3 separate regions of the Homo sapiens genome follow, and regions 2 and 3 are each linked to region 1. The links come from fine-mapping of genetic effects on gene expression. A gene starts in region 1. Each other region holds a variant in brackets. All regions are shown on one strand. Distances are between the middles of the regions. Region 1 holds the start of TNN (tenascin N). Region 2 overlaps TNN (tenascin N). Region 3 overlaps TNN (tenascin N).

What was found. PIP is the estimated chance that this variant, and not a neighbour inherited with it, causes the effect.
Region 2: its variant is the best candidate, but not a certain one, in a credible set for the expression of TNN in spleen (GTEx, PIP 0.73).
Region 3: its variant is the best candidate, but not a certain one, in a credible set for the expression of TNN in lung (TOPMed, PIP 0.62).

The regions. Positions count from the first base shown.
Region 1 is chr1:175,064,937-175,070,165 of GRCh38, reverse strand. It overlaps TNN (tenascin N), which reads right to left and starts at 2,333. Exons shown (of 19, transcript NM_022093.2): 1 at 2,231-2,333. RefSeq lists an enhancer at 1,813-3,012.
Region 2 is chr1:175,117,845-175,123,073 of GRCh38, reverse strand. It overlaps TNN (tenascin N), which reads right to left. Exons shown (of 19, transcript NM_022093.2): 11 at 4,250-4,513. Among named protein-coding and RNA genes, the nearest start is that of TNN, 53 kb to the right of the region's middle. The variant T/C (reference allele first, on the strand shown) is at 3,162.
Region 3 is chr1:175,089,947-175,095,175 of GRCh38, reverse strand. TNN (tenascin N) reads right to left here. Exons shown (of 19, transcript NM_022093.2): 7 at 923-1,186. Among named protein-coding and RNA genes, the nearest start is that of TNN, 25 kb to the right of the region's middle. The variant G/A (reference allele first, on the strand shown) is at 2,907.

The DNA of each region.
Region 1 (5,229 bases):
AGAATGAATCACTTTCTCACAGCAAGAACTTCCTTTAGCTTTTGTGGGACCAAGCTCATGCACAATAACAAGATAAAATAGACACGGGACCTAAATTCAGGAACCTTCCTCTCCCTTATTCAACCAAACAGCCAGTCCCCAGAATGACTAAATATTACTTTGTATACAATTAGCCCTAATATCCATGGGTGTGAGGGGCGTCAGATTAAAACAAAACAAAACAAAAAACTCTGCAATTTCTTTCTTTAGCTAACGTGTTGTTTTCCACATATTGAAGTAACTTTAAAGTTCCAGTCTTCTAGCAAGGAGGAGAGCGTTTGCTAATTTCCAAGCATTTGCACTGTTCCACTCACACTCGCTGGGTACAGATTCAAATGGTGGCTGGGCAGCATTAGCAGTGAGTCCACTGTGGCAGAAGCAGCAAAGTCCCTGTCCATCCAGAGATCAGGCCTGAGATCTTAGCAACTTCTGCTCACAGACTGGTGGCTCCAGATGTGGCTACAGGACCTAAACCATGATCTCATGTCTGTATCCAGATCCTATAGGAGCCAAGGCTCTGGAATGAGCAGTGAATGGACAAAAGTTTCCACTGGGCCTGGGCACAATTTCCTCAGGCATCTTCTCAGAAAGAGAGCTCTGCCCACCCTACATTTCAAACCACAGAGCAGCACTGGACTGGAAAACCAGAAGCCACGGGATGATTTGAAATCATTTGTTCTATTTTCCCTCCTTCGGGAGTCAGCTGCAGCCTATAAACTGGGGACAAAGCAGTACTTAGAGTTGTATGAAAGAATGCCAGGTGCCTTCTTCCCTTCTCTCCTGGAAAAATGATACCAGTATTGATACTCTATTTTTTCCTGTGTCTGACACTGTCACCTTGATTCTGAGTCTGCAACAAATGTCTGAATGTCAAGAGGCCAGCTGCCAATACGTAGCCCTGACCGAGCAAGGTATCATCTGATGCCTTGGTGACACCTCAGCTTTTCCAAGAACCAGTGGATTTTAGGCACTGTGGCTAACCTGTGTCCCAATGTGGGCAGTTTGTTACTTTTATGTTGGAACTTGTTCTTTTTTTTAATGCTTATATAAGCAACACAGGTTTCATGCTTTTAAGTGAAGCCCTGCCTGTTCTCATTCATTCTTTCTCCATCCTTCCCCCAGATCTCTCCCAAGCACAAAAATTAATAAATAAGTAAAAAGTAAGACCTCCAAAAACTAGTTTTTTTTGTTTGTTTGCTTTGTTTTGTTTTTGTTTTTTAGATGGAGTTTTGCTCTTGTTGCCCAGGCTGGAGTGCAATGGTTCAATCTCGGCTCACCGCAACCTCCACCTCCCAGGTTCAAGCAATTCTCCTGCCTCAGCCTCCCAAGTAGCTGGGATTATAGGCATGCGCCACCACGCCCGGCTAATTTTTTGTATTTTTAGTAGAGACGGAGTTTCTCCATGTTGGTCAGGCTGGTCTCGAACTCTCGACCTCAGGTGATCCACCTGCCTCAGCCTCTCAAAGTGCTGGGATTACAGGCATGAGCCACCATGCCCGGCCAACCACATCATTTTTTTAGATGTCTTGAAATGTTTTCTTTGAGGTATTGTGAGGGTAATAGTATGGGGATTTCGAGAGAAGTTGTCGTCTTAACAAATAATAATTAAAACCTGTAAAATTAAATGTCTGGAGATACTTCAAAGCTGTTCAAATGTGTTTGCAAACATCCCCTTAACTGATTCACACAAAATCCAGACAAAGGGAAAGTTATCATAGCTTCCTAATCATAACTAAAATAACAATTCTGTTTTAGGATTTAAAAGAATAATGAAATACAACAATACTAAATTATCCAAAAAAAGACAGAGAGAGAGAAAGCTTTGACATTGTAAGTAAGTTAAAAAGAAAAAAAAATGAGAAGGAACATCTTAAAGGAAACATTTTATACAAAAATGTGTTACGCCAGGTAGAAGCTGATACAACACAGACGCATCTGTGTTGCAGGAAAGAGGATAACTATGCTTAGCCCTGTCTGAGACTGGAGTATAATACTAAGGATGCAGTACACGGGTCCTGAGAGGTACTTCCCAATTCATTTTAACTCTTCATGGAGGTGATAGGAGACTAATTACACTGCCCGGATTTTCAGGCTCGGGAACGGAGGCACCTGAGCCACCACTTTTGAGCTCATCTGCATTGGCCACCTCCCTCCCTCCAGTAAGTAAAGCTTGGGCAACTGGCACTCTTACCTGGGAGGCTGCTGGGTGCCTCTTCCAATGCTGCTGCTCCTGTGAGCCGGTCTCCTCCTGCCGCAGACCTTGGTACTTGCTGGTCGTCCCTGGTTCTCGTCTCTCCTTGGCTTCCCTTCCTGGGTTTAAATCCTGTCTAGGCCAGAGGAGGAGCAAATGGAGACTCCTGGTGTTTTCCTCCCTTCCTAGCAGGGACTCTGCTAAAAGATAATGAGCAATTCCTTCTCTTATTCTAACTAGGAAAGAAAAATATATACATTTCCTTCTTCTTTTTCACTTTGATTACACAGCAGCTAAAAATACTGGAGGCTGTTTCCATTTAAGTGAATCCAGAATAAGGATATTAAAAGAGTTTGCCTGTCTCCTGGCCAGGAGCTGGGTCTCGGGGTTCAAAAGTGCATTTATAAAGTTTCTTTCTCTTTTTCCTGTTTCAGGCATTCTGGGACTTCCTGCCTACTGCTTTTAAAATGGGAAAAAGCCTTTAGCACAGAAAGAAATGAGCAGAGACCCTCAGGGACAGAAGCTCTTCTGACTTCCCTCCTCCTTCATCCATCGTCTCACACTTGTGAGTGGCAGGACTCTGAAGTGGGGGCAGGAATAACAGACTGGGGACATTCGGTCCCACAAGCCCACTCTGACCCTCACCCCATCCCAAATGCCTCCCACACGCCAACAGTACAAGAGCTCCAAAATCAGGAAAGAATAGTCGTGCCCCTTTCTGGCTGCCCTTCCTCTTTTGCCCTCAGATGGACAGGCCTTCATCCTTCCTATGAACCAGAGTCATTTCAATAGGGCATGGGCTGACACCTGCCACCCTTCCTTACACCCCATCCCTCTCCTGCTCTGTGGGAAGTAGATTCTGGAGTGCAGATCCACAACAAAATGAAGGAGACCATATGTTTCCAGTTCACCTATGTCAGCATCAAATGCTGCTGGAGGGAAAGGAGAAGGAGAGACGGGGGACCAAAAAGTGGCCCCCAGAAATTGGAGGGGGGTTCCCAGAGGCAGCTTGCCTGGATCTGAAGCTTGTGTCTGCTACTTGCAAATGACCTTTGACAACTTCTTTGTGGCTCAGCTTACTCGTCTGTAAAATAGGAATAGTGTCTTATGGTTATTGTGAGGTTCAAATGAGTAGATGGGGTAAAGAACTTAGACTAGTCCCAAGACACAATGAGGACTTGGTAAAGATTACCTGCTACCATGATTATTATAACTTTTTAATTCTCCTTATGTATCCCACTAAATCATATTTGATCCTCTCCACCTCAGTCCAGGTAGGTTCATAGTTCTCTGCCCTTCACTTACAACCACAAATAATCCTGCTATCTGGCCCTGGAATCTGGGCCAGCCATATACAGAGGTGACCAGTGCAGTAGGAACCAGGGTCACCAGAAAATTTCCCAACTCCCAAACATCTCTTTTCTCCCTTGGACTATTTTCTCTGCTTCTTAAAAGGGAAAATCTCTCCCAGAGGATCCTAAGACTCTATTGCGCCCTCAAGTTGCTCTCCTATTCTTAATTTCCTTTCACTAACTCTCCCCAAATGAGTGGTCTTCACCAACTCTCTCCGTGACCCCATTTTCCATGCCCTCAATAGGAATAACTAAACCAGTGCACCAGGCTCCTAAGAAGCCACCTTCCTCCAATCTCTCCTTATTACAGCTGGTATTAGTTAGTTGCAGGACATGGAGCTGTAGCAAAGAGACCCTCCAATGCAGTGACTTAACAACATAGATGATTTCTCCCCAAACAGTAGAAGACAGTGGCCCAGGGCTGGTAGGGCAGTGCCACCATCCACAGCACACACCCACCACTCTCTAGGGTCATCATCTCCCAGCCAACAGGAAGGGTAAAGGGATGAGGGCAGATGGAAGTGCGTGCTCATTCCTTACAAACACAAAAACAAAAACTTTTTATTTTATAATTATTTCAGACTTGCAGAAAAATTGCAAAAATATTAAAAGAATCCCTGTATACCCTTCACTCATATTCTCCAAGTGTTAACATTTTGTCATATTTGCCAATCATTCATTCTCTCTTAATAGTTTTCCCTGAAAACATTTGAGAGCAAATTAAAGACATGATTTATCTCTTTACCCATTTATGTCTAAAAACTTTAGTATAGGGTGTTTCCCAACAACAAGGGCATACTCTCTCATAACCTCAATACAATGATCAAAATCAGAAATTGACATTGACATAATACTATTGTCTAATTTACAGACGATATTCAAATTCCATTGATTGTTTCTCTAATGTCTTTTATAGCAAAAGAAAAATAATTTACAGACCCAGGATTCAATTCAGGATAATTAATTGCATTTAGTTGTCCTGTCTTTAAAATTTCCTTAAGTTGGAATAGTTCTTCAATCTTTATCTTTCATGACCTTAACATTTTTGAAGAGAAAACGTCAGTTATTTTAAAGAATGTCCTCAGTTTGCATTTGTGTGGTATTTTTTCATGCCTAGATTTAGGCCATACGTTTTTGGCAGGCAGCGGCAGAAGCGGCGTGTCTTTGGTCCATCACATCAGGAGACACTTGATGGCAGTCTGTCCCAGTGTTGGTGATGTTACCTTGGACCACTTGGTTAGGGTGATATCTGCCAGGTTTCTCCACAGTAAATATTTGCCCTTTTTTATTTAACAGGTATATTGTGGGATGATGTTTTTAAACCATGTAAATATTCTGCTTCTTTTTATATTTTCACTCACTAGTTTTAACACCCATTGTTGATTCTTGCCTGGAACAATTACTACTATGCTGGCTGCCAAATGGCGATTTTCCTAATTTCATCTTTCTTTTTATGTTTACTAGATAGAATTCTATTATAAAAAGTAATTTTTCTTCCCCCACCTTTATTTTATTAATCACCTTATATTCAAAGTGACTCATATTCTTTTTTTCATTCTATGGGTTATATTCCTGTACTATCATTATTTTGTTGCTCAAATTGCCCCAGATTTGGCCAGGGTGAACCCTTCAGGCTGGTTACTGTGT
Region 2 (5,229 bases), 53 kb before region 1:
ATCTAGTTATTTTGTTTCACAGAATTTGAGAGCCAAGAAGTCATATCCTCCAACCTTTCCGACTTATAAAAGGGGAGGAGAATGGAGGCCCAGGGAAATGGAAGGTCTAGGCCAAGTTCCTGTTGACATCTTATGTTAAAGCCAAGACTCTTCGCTCTGAATTTTAGGCCTTCCCACCCTCTCAAGGACTTTGCTGCAGATCTGCCCTTTCTCTCCTGTGTCATCAATCTCTTCTTCTCTGTCATCAGTCCCAGACAAGCAAGGTCTAGAATCCCCCATCCTCTCCCGTATCATTCCATTTCTCTGCAACCTTAAACTGACAGATTGTCTCAAGAGAAATGTCTACATACCTTAACTTCACTGCTCACTCTCCAATCAATCCTGTTTGCATCTTTCTATGCCACACAACTAAATCTGCTAGTCTAAGTCACCAACAACATCCGTGTTGCCACATCTAATGCATACTTGCCATTCTCAACTTTACACTGCTTCTGGGTGGCATTTGGCAGAGCTGATCCACTCCTTCCTTCTTGAAACACTCTCAACCCTTGGCTTCCATGACTACATACTCCCTTGATTTTCCTAACTCACTGGCTCTTCTTCAGTCCTTTGTTAGCAACCTTCAAACACTGGAGCACCCAAAGCTCCCTTTCTCTGTTATTTGTTGTGTTTTGTTTTGTTTTGTTGATACAGAGTCTCGGTCTTTCACCCAAGCTGGAGAGCAGTGGTGCCATCATAGGTCACTGCAGCCTTGACCTCCCAGGCTCAAGCAATCCTCCCACCTCAGCCTCCAGAGTAGCTGGGAATACAGGTGCATGCCACCACACTCAGCCAATTTTTGTATTTTTTTTTTTTGTAAAGACAGGATTTCACCAGGCTGGTCTTGAACTCCTGAGCTCAAGCAATTCACCTACCTCAGCCTCCAAAAGTTCTGGGATTACAGGTGAGAGTCACTGCACCTGTCCCAAAGCTCCCTCTTTTCCTCTCTGTACTTTTCCACCTAGGTGATCTCACTCATGCCCATGGCTTTAAATACCAACTGGATGCTAATCGCTCCACAATATCTATTAATTCTGAGCCCCTGACTAGTTTATACAACTGCATCTCCACCACGGTGCCTGGCCTGTATTAGACACTCAATAAATATTTATGTAATCAATAAATGAATCACTCAATTAACCAAGGAATCTCACAAGTATCTTGAACTTAAATATTTAAAAGTCTTGATGCTTCTCCCCAAACTTTTTATTTCTCAGTCTCCCCTCTCAAGAAATGGTAGTCCAATCTCCCATGTTGCTCAAATAAAAAACACAGGTCATACTTGAGTCCTCATTTTCTTCCTACCCCACATCTATCAACAGGTATTATCATCCATACCTCAAAAATATATTCCAGACATCCCCTCTTCTCTGTCCCTTTTGCCATCATGCTTACCTAGACAAGCAGCATTTTGCACCCAGACTTTTCTAGCAGCTTCCCTACGAACCTCCCAACTTCTATCCTTGTCATTTTCTCCATTTATTCTCCTCACTGTGGCCTGGAAAATGTTTTTTAAATGAACACTGCATCATATCACTCTTCTAGTATTAATAAGTATAGCCCATTTTGTCCTCTAAGTACCACATGGTCCTGGCTGATCTGCCCCTGCTCCTCCCGCCTCATCTCAGGCCACTTGCTCTTCCACCCTCTATGCTCCAGCAAAACTGGCCTCTTTTCATTCTCCAACCATCCCAGGTACTATTCCAGCTGGGGGACATCACACATACTCTTCCGTTTGCCAGAAATGGCTAGTTTTTGCCAAAATCCATTCTCCCCCTTCTTCTGTAAGCACACTTACTGTCCAACAGATCTCTCTGCAATGATGAAAGTATTCTATAATCGGCACAGTCCGATACCGTAGCCATTAGTCACATGTGGCTACTGACCATTTGAAATGTGGCTAATCCAAATGAGAAAATATTTTTATTTTATTTTTAATTAATTAAAATTTAGGCTGGGCATAGTGACCCATGCCTGTAATCCCAGCACTTTGGGAAGCCGAGGCAGGAGGATCACTTGAGCCCAGGAGTTCAACACAGTGAGACCCCATCTCTAAAAGAAATAAAAAATTACAGGTTTAGTGGCACGTGCCTATGGTCCCAGCTACTTGGGAAGCTAAGGTGGGAGGATGGCTTGAGCCCGGGAGGTCAAGCCTGCAGTGAACTGTGATCATACCACTGTACTCCAGCCTAGCTAACAGAATGAGACCCTGTCTCTGAAAATAAAATAAAAATAAAAATAATTTTAATAGCTACATGTAGCTAGCAGCTGCTGTGTTGGTCAGGACAGCATAACCAAAGTAAAGCTGGGCACAGGGCCATCCAGCTAAAGACCTCATTTCCTAGCCTTTTTTGCAGTGAGGTCTGTCTGGGACCTGGCAATGGAACATGAGAAGGGCTGATATGTGCAATGTCCCAGTGATGCCCTGACTTTCATCATGCCTCTTCCCACTGGCTACAATGCAGACAGGGTGGTGACCAGGTAAAGGAGGGCAAATTGCTAGGGATGACTAAGCAACAATCACAGAAGAAGCCTGGGTCTCCTGGACGAGGAGCTACCGTATCAGCCCTGGACATTCTACAGAGAGGAATACACTCCATTCCTGCTGATGCAACTGTTATTTGAGTGTTTCTGTCTATGTATATCCTATTACTACTCACCCTTCCCATCTGCAAGACATCCTTACCCTGTAATTCTCTATACCTACACCATGTTCATCTCCTTCACAGAATTTAGCATAATTTACGGTTTTAAATGTGTTTTCTTATTTATTGTCTATCTTCACTCTAGACTTCAAGAGAGTAGAGATATTTGTTTTGTTCACCACTGTGTTCCCCAGGCCTGGCACTTAGATGATGCTCATTAAAAGTCAGCTGCCTACTGCAAGGAAACAGGGCTCCAGCCACCCAGGTGAATACTTGCTCCTTTCTATCACACAGCGTCTATTCGGTCAAACCTATACAAAATAGCTTGCCACAAAACAGGTTTTTAATCAGTGGTTTTAAGAATTTTATATTGGTTTTACATTATTTCCTATAGCTGAGAGACACAATGATTAAAAACACAGGCTTTGGAAAGAGTTTTAAGACATTCATGGGCCCAGGCGCAGTGGCTCATGCCTG[T/C]AATCCCAGCACTTTGGGAGGCCATGGTAGGCGGATCACGAGGTCAGGAGATTGAGACCATCCTGGCTAACACGGTGAAACCCCGTCTCTACTAAAAATACAAAAACAAAATTAGCCGGGCATGGTGGCGGGCGCTTGTAATCCCAGCTACTTGGGAGGCTGAGGCAGGAGAATGGCATGAACCCGGGAGGCGGAGCTTGCAGTGAGCCGAGATAGCGCCACTGCACTCCAGCCTGGGCGACAGGGCAAGACTGTCTCAAAAAAAAAAAAAAAAGAAAAAAAAGGCATTCATGGGACTGCTCCCACTGGGTCCATTACTATAGTTTTGTCAGACATGCTTGAACCAGAGAAACTCCATCTTGAATAGGAACTGGGTCAAATAAGGGTGAAACCTACTGGGCTGCATTCCCAGATGGTTAAGGCATTCTAAGTCACAGGATAAGATAGGAGGTCAGCACAAGATACAGGTCATAAAGACCGTGCTGTTAAAACAGCCTGCAGTAAAGAAGCCGGCCAAGACCCACCAAAACGAAGATGGCAATGAGAGTGACCTCTGGTCATCCTCACTACTACACTCCCACCAGTGCCATGACAGTTTACAAATGCCAAGGCAATGTCAGGAAGTCACCCTATATGGTCTAAAAAGGGGAGGTATGAATAATCCACCTCTTGTTTAGCATATCTTCAAGAAATAACCATAAAAATGGACAACCACAAGCCCTCAGGGCTGCTCTGCCCATGGCTAGTAGCCATTCTTTTATTCCTTTACTTTCCTAATAAACTTGCTTTCACTTTACTCTATGGGCTCACCCTGAACTCTTTCTTGCACAAGATCCAAGAACCCTTTCTAAGGGTCTGGATCGGGACGCCTTTCCTATAACACGTTGTTCTTTCTTTGGGTGAATGAAAGTTTTTTGTTTCTTTGTTTGTTTTTTGTTTTTGTTTTGTTTTGTTTTTACAGCAAACTCTCCTAAAACAGTCTGCAGCCCTGAGGTTACAGATGCCAAAAGCAGCTGCATCATCACTCAGCTGCAATAGATCAACCTGCAGCTACTACCCGGGTTTGCTCTTCTCTTCACTTCTATTACCTGTCTGGGCCTTGGTGTCAGCCTTCTTGCTCTCCTGGTTCCCCTTCTGGGCCCACACGTGCACCGTGTACTCCATGCCCGGCCTCAGGCCCGTCAGGACAGTGCTGCTCTGCTCCTTCCCCACTGGAACCTCCCTGGTCTCTCCGTTGGCAGACGTGTAGTGCACCACATACCTGTCAATGGTGGCCTGCACCGGGTCCCAGGAGACAGTGGCTGTATTCTCTGTCACCCAGTCAGTGACCAGGTTTTGGGGGCTGTCAATGTCTGAAAAAAAAAATGCTGACCAATATGCACTATGAACAGGTGCCAGAGTGCAGAAACTGGTGGTCATTTTGCGTGGGGTGAAACCCTTTCATGTTGTGTGGGGTTTCCGCCTCATATGCTCTTGTTTCATTTTTAGCTGTTTCATGGACATCATCTTCTCCCCCAAGATATACCTGGCTCCTCAAGTAGAAAGCACAATAGATCAGAACCTGAGAATCCAGGCTGTTACCTCTACCAAGTCTTTAGCAAAACAAATCTTTTATTCATCTAGTAAGGGTATATCAAGCCCCAACTCTGTCCATGAAATGTTCTAGACAGTGTGCAGAATCCAGAATTGGAAAAGACATGGTCTCTGCTCACCAGGAACTAACAATTTTGTGTCTCACATCATGTCAGTAAAGACCTCCCATTTCATACTAGAAGATTCTAAAAGCCACTTCTAAATGTAAGCCCCTGGAGGAAGAGGGCAGCATCCTATTCTCCTGTGTTCCCAGTGCCTAGTAGTGGGCAGGGCACGTGGAAAATGCTCACTATATATTACTAAAGGAATCCGCAAAAAGTAAAACCCTGGTTGAATATTCTCTAGCATATCATAGATTCACTCATCATGCTGGTTTGCTGATTAAATCACTGTACAAAATATGGTTAGATATCGCTTCCACTAAAATAAGAATATAACGTAGGAGCTATCCTTATCCTCAAAACTCTGGCCAACG
Region 3 (5,229 bases), 25 kb before region 1:
TCTAGGAGGCTGTGCACCACGAAATCTTTCAAGAGCCAAATACTGATTAACATTCTAAAAAATCATTGCTCTCACTTGTGCCATAAGAAACAGGAACGGAAGTAAAGTAACTTGCTCAAAGCCACTCAGCTAGTCAATGGCAGAGCTGGGGTTAAAACCTGGACAGTCAATTTTCTGAAACCATATTCCTAACCATCTCTCTGCTTCTCTGAGAGTCTCTATACTCAGTAACTGTCCAGAATAGAATGCAAACAATAAGCGAAGCCTTTCCCTCTGATTTCCTGCCAGGTGTTTTGGAACCTCATGCGGGCACCAGGATCAGGCTGCTCTAAATTCAGAGAAGCACCAGGAGAGGATTTAAGCAGAAAGAATGGCTGGGCTATGTCCCAGTATAGTCCCAGGACCCCTGCAGGCGCAAACTGAGCAGAATGACTGGGTGAAGTATGAGAACCCTCATGGCTTCTGAAAGCTTAAAGGAAGAATTGGTCCATTTAGTAAATGTTGACTTAGGATGCAAACTATTTCCACGGTCTAAAAGAGAGCTCCAGATTATATGCAAAGTGCCTGCACAGCCACTGCAAACTGAGATAAGCATTCAAATTCACTGTCAGCCCAATGTTTTGAGTTTTCACATCTAAAAAATGAAAATTAGGAAGTGTTACTCTATTCTGAGGGGGTTGCATACGGAATTCCAACTCAAATAAGTATGACCTTCTGCATCAAGTGAAAAAGCTGATCTCTTTTGTTTGATGTTAAAAAGGAAAAATATATATAATTATGAAAATCAAAATTGGTTTTGCAACCTCCTCCCCACTCCTGCAAACAAAAGAGCTGATGCCAGGTGAGCAATGACCTCCTGATTCAAAAATCAACCTTCTCCCTGCCATGAGGAAACCTATTTATGCTCCCGTCCTTCTGTTACCTGTGAGGGCATTGGTGTCAGCTTTCTTGCTCCCCTGGTTGCCCCTTTCAGCCCACACGTAGACCTTGTATGCCTCTCCTGGCTTCAGGCCCGTCAGGACAGTGCTGCTCTCATCCTTGTGCACTGCCATTTCCTTGGTGTCCCCATCAGCAGAAGTGTAGCGCACTACATACTTGTCTATGACAGCCTGCACTGGGTCCCAGGAGACAGTTGCTGTGTCTTCAGTCACTCGATCAGTGACAACATTGGTTGGACTGTCAATTTCTTCATAAAAACACATGAGAAAGAAAAATCAGAGAAACCAGTTGGTTAGTCAAGATCATAGATTGTTAAAGATCTAGTTCACCTGGGTGACCTAGTTCAATAGTTTATGCAATACAAGGGGGTCTCTCCATCATCAGTGACAAGTGGACAACTGGCTTCTGCTTGAACCCTAAACTAAGAAAGGACTCTCCAATAGACAACACAATCCATTCCATTTTCCATTTGCAGACTACTGAACATATTAGAGAAAACTCCTTCAAATGTAACTCCTTCTAATTGTCTACCCTAGGTAGACAGAGAGAATACATCTAATTCCCCTTCCAGAAGACCAACCAGCAAGTATTCAAGAAGAGTCATCATTCCCCTCCCTAGTTCTCCTCAAATCAAAACAACATCACCTCCCCTGTTCATTGCTTCCAAATCACAGTTTCCAGGCCTGGCACTTTTATCTACACATGCTCTTCTCTCTCTTTTCAAATACAAATCTCCAAAACTCACTTCATTCATTCAACAGCACTTCACTGAACATCCATTATGTGTCAGGGAATGTAATGACATTTAAGAGTTATCAATGAGCAAAACAGTCAAAAATCCCCACCAATGTGGAGCTTATATTCAAAAAGAACTAACCCAGAACAATATGCCAGCTGTGTCCTAGAGACTGTGCTTCCCAAGAACATATCCTGAGCCCATGACCTTAGAAAATCTCTCATTTTTTCTTTGACACATGTCCCTGCTAACCCAAGGTCCTGCTTCATGTGTTCAAGCAACAGCAAGGAGGCCAGTGCATCTAGACAGAGTTAAGTCAAGCGGCTGGAGGGGAGGCCAGGGAAGTGAGAGGGACAGTGGACTATGGATGGCCTTGAAGGCCATTGTAATGACATTGTCTTTTACACTAAGTAACAAGAGAAGTCTCTGGGGGCTTTGAAAAGAGGAATGACCTGATCTGACTTGGGCTATCAAAGGATCCCTCTGGCTTCTGAGGAGAATACTCACTCTAGTGAACCAAGAGTGAAGGTCACACAGGAGGCTGCTTCAGTGGTGTATATGCAAGATGGTGGGGGTGCAGGCCACTGCAGCAGTAATGAGGGTCATGGGGAAGGCTGGCTTTGGAGCTTTCAAAGGTAAGGCTGTCATAATCTGCTGATGGATTCAACATGGGATACAATGAATGATTTGTTGGCTTGGGGCCCAAGTAATTTGCAAAATGGAGTGGCCATTTATAGAGACAGGGATATCTGAGGGAGGGAAGCATTTGCAGTAGGGAGTGGGGAGAGGAAGAGGACCAAGCGTTTGCTTTTGGATACATTAAGTGGTAGAGCCAAGATTTGAACTCATTCTTATCTAACAAAGACTATACATTTCCACTTTATATGTCTATGTCCTAAGCAGCACTATCAATAGCATTTTCCTTTGCAACTAATAATAATAATAAATTATAAATAAAGTAAAGTGTGAACTGAAAGGTTACTGTGACATGAAATCCAGCAGCAGTAATAGACAGTAACTAGAGAGAGAAACTCGTTCTTGAACTATTGCCTTGTGAGACAATAGTCTCACTGTGACTGGCACTGTGAGCTCAGAGCCAATAGTCTGCCACTTGTGGGCCTCCAGGAATGACAGAGTGGACAATTAGGATGCAGGCACCCACTGTCTGACCCCATGGCCAGGGCCTCTGGAGGCTCCAGCAGGCTGTAAGAGGACAGTCAAGGAAAAGAGT[G/A]CAACGATAGAGAGAACTCTCTCCCCATCCTGTAACAACTTTCTGTGCAAGACATGATCCTGCATGTCATAGGGAAGAGATGACAAGAGCCATCCAAAACCAATATCTCAATCTGGGGAAATTAGTGACAAAGTGGAAATGGAAAACTAAGGAGGCAGGAAGAAGCGAGCAAGAACACCCTAGCAGTCCTGCTCGTGAAGTTCATGGCCCTCACCTTCTCAAAAGCATCCACATCTGTACAACCCCAGGTCCCAGCAGTGCCTCCCACCCCATCTCCCTGCCCCAGATTGGTGCTTGCTACCATTGCTTCCAGGACCCACAGCAGAGGCCTGTGGCTTTGTGGGGTTGGTGCTGCCTGTGTGTATTGAAAAATATATCATAGCCAGGCACAACAGCTCATACCTGTAATTCCAGCACTTTGGGAGGTGAAGCTGGGTGGATCACTTGAGGCCAGGAGTTCGAGACTAGCCTGGCCAACATGGCAAAACCGTGTCTCTACTAAAAACACAAAAAATTAGCCGGGCAGGGTGGTACATGCCTGTAATCCCAGCTACTCGGGAGGCTGAGGCACGAGAATGGCTTGAACCTGGAAGGCAGAGGTTGCAGTAAGCTGAGATCATGCACCACACTCCAGCCTAGGTGACATAGCAAGACTCAGTCTCAAAATAAATAAATAAATAAATAAATAAATAAATAAATAAATAAATAAAAATAATAAATAAAAGTAAATAAATAAAGGAAAGATCCATCATGTCCACATGGGTGGAAAGAGGAAGCAGCAGCCAGCTCTGTAGCTCCTTTCTCTCCCACCAGTCCCAGAGCACTCAAGGGATGGAGAAGAGCCAGGAAACAGCATCTTGGGTATGAAGAGTAGGAAGGTAAAACTGAATCATATTATGCCCAGGGTTATAGGAGACCTGGAGGTTTAAAGAAGTTTAAGAGAGGAGATGTGACTTCTCCAAGCTCACAGTGCCAGTCACAGCTCTTGGCCCCCTGCCTTCCCTTTTCTCTCAGTTCTCTAACCACAGCAACTCAACTCAGAAGGGGCTCTTCACAGAGCTTGCTCTCCTTGACCATTCCCCCGATGGGGATCAGGTGCTGAGACACAGGAATGGGAGGAAGGCCTCAGAGATGGGACCTCCATGATAGGCCACATTGCTGGAAGAGGCCAGCTTTGCAGGACTGAAACCTCTTTCTACCAAAAAGGGATCTGGAGATTATGAAATAGTTTTTCCATGCAAGGAAGCCTTTCAGCAGCTGCAGCAGCTGGCTAAATCACAGATTAGCCACAGCTGTAGCCTCTACTACAAGACAGGCTCTCCCCACCCTGGCCCCAACATCCTCCCCAGGCTGGAACTTCCCAACTGCTGGACACTAGCAGCCCTGGTGGGACCTTTCTTAGGGACATTCAAGGTCAATGAGATGTAAAGTAAGGTTTGTAAAACTGGATAGGTGGGACTCGCCTGTGAGTACATACGTTAGTTAGAATAAAGGTGCACTTCACTTCAAAGAGATCTAATTTGCAAAACCTGAACACAGTATATGGAGGAGGTTAATTAGAAGCTCTGTTCACATCAGGAAAGCTTATTCCACTTTATAACAAGATTTGCCACAGAGTTGGGTAGGGAACATCTGTCTTCACACTAGGCTGTAACATCCGAAAGCTCCTGTCCACACTTGAGCACATAGTCACAGGCATTAGGAACAGGTTTCTCCACTCACAATTTCCACCTGTGAATCTCCCAGTTGGTGCAGTAGAAGATGGCACTGACGGGATGAAAAATCTATGAGAAATGATCTTGGGGGAGGAAGACACGGGGGGCAGGACCTGTGTCATTGATTTGAAGGTGGGTTCCTGGAAGAGGTGCCTTGAGACCACAATACCTACACGTTCTGTACTCTTGTTTTCACAGACCTCCTCTAATGTCTTTCAATTGTGGCAACAAAATTATCCAAAAGGCATCGTTTGTAGAAAATGCACTCAGAGAGGTCAGCCCTTCTTCCTGTTGTCCTCCAGCTTTGCTTCTAAAAAGGTTATTGACTTTGATTTCAAGCGAACCTAAGTTGTACCAGCTAGCTGTTCACTAGCTCACCCTGAGTCTCCTAAACTTTGTAGGCCTCAGTGTTCTCATATGTAAAATGGAAATAATAATGCTTACAATCCTATTGATATTATAAGGACCAGAGATAATATTTACAAAGTCTCACAATATACAGAAGCCCACTAGAATACAGTGATCGCGCAAATGATAGAGATTGTTGCTGTTGTCCAGATGCTAAATGTGTGTGTTGGTGGCTGTGTATGAGACAGGAGTTCTCAATG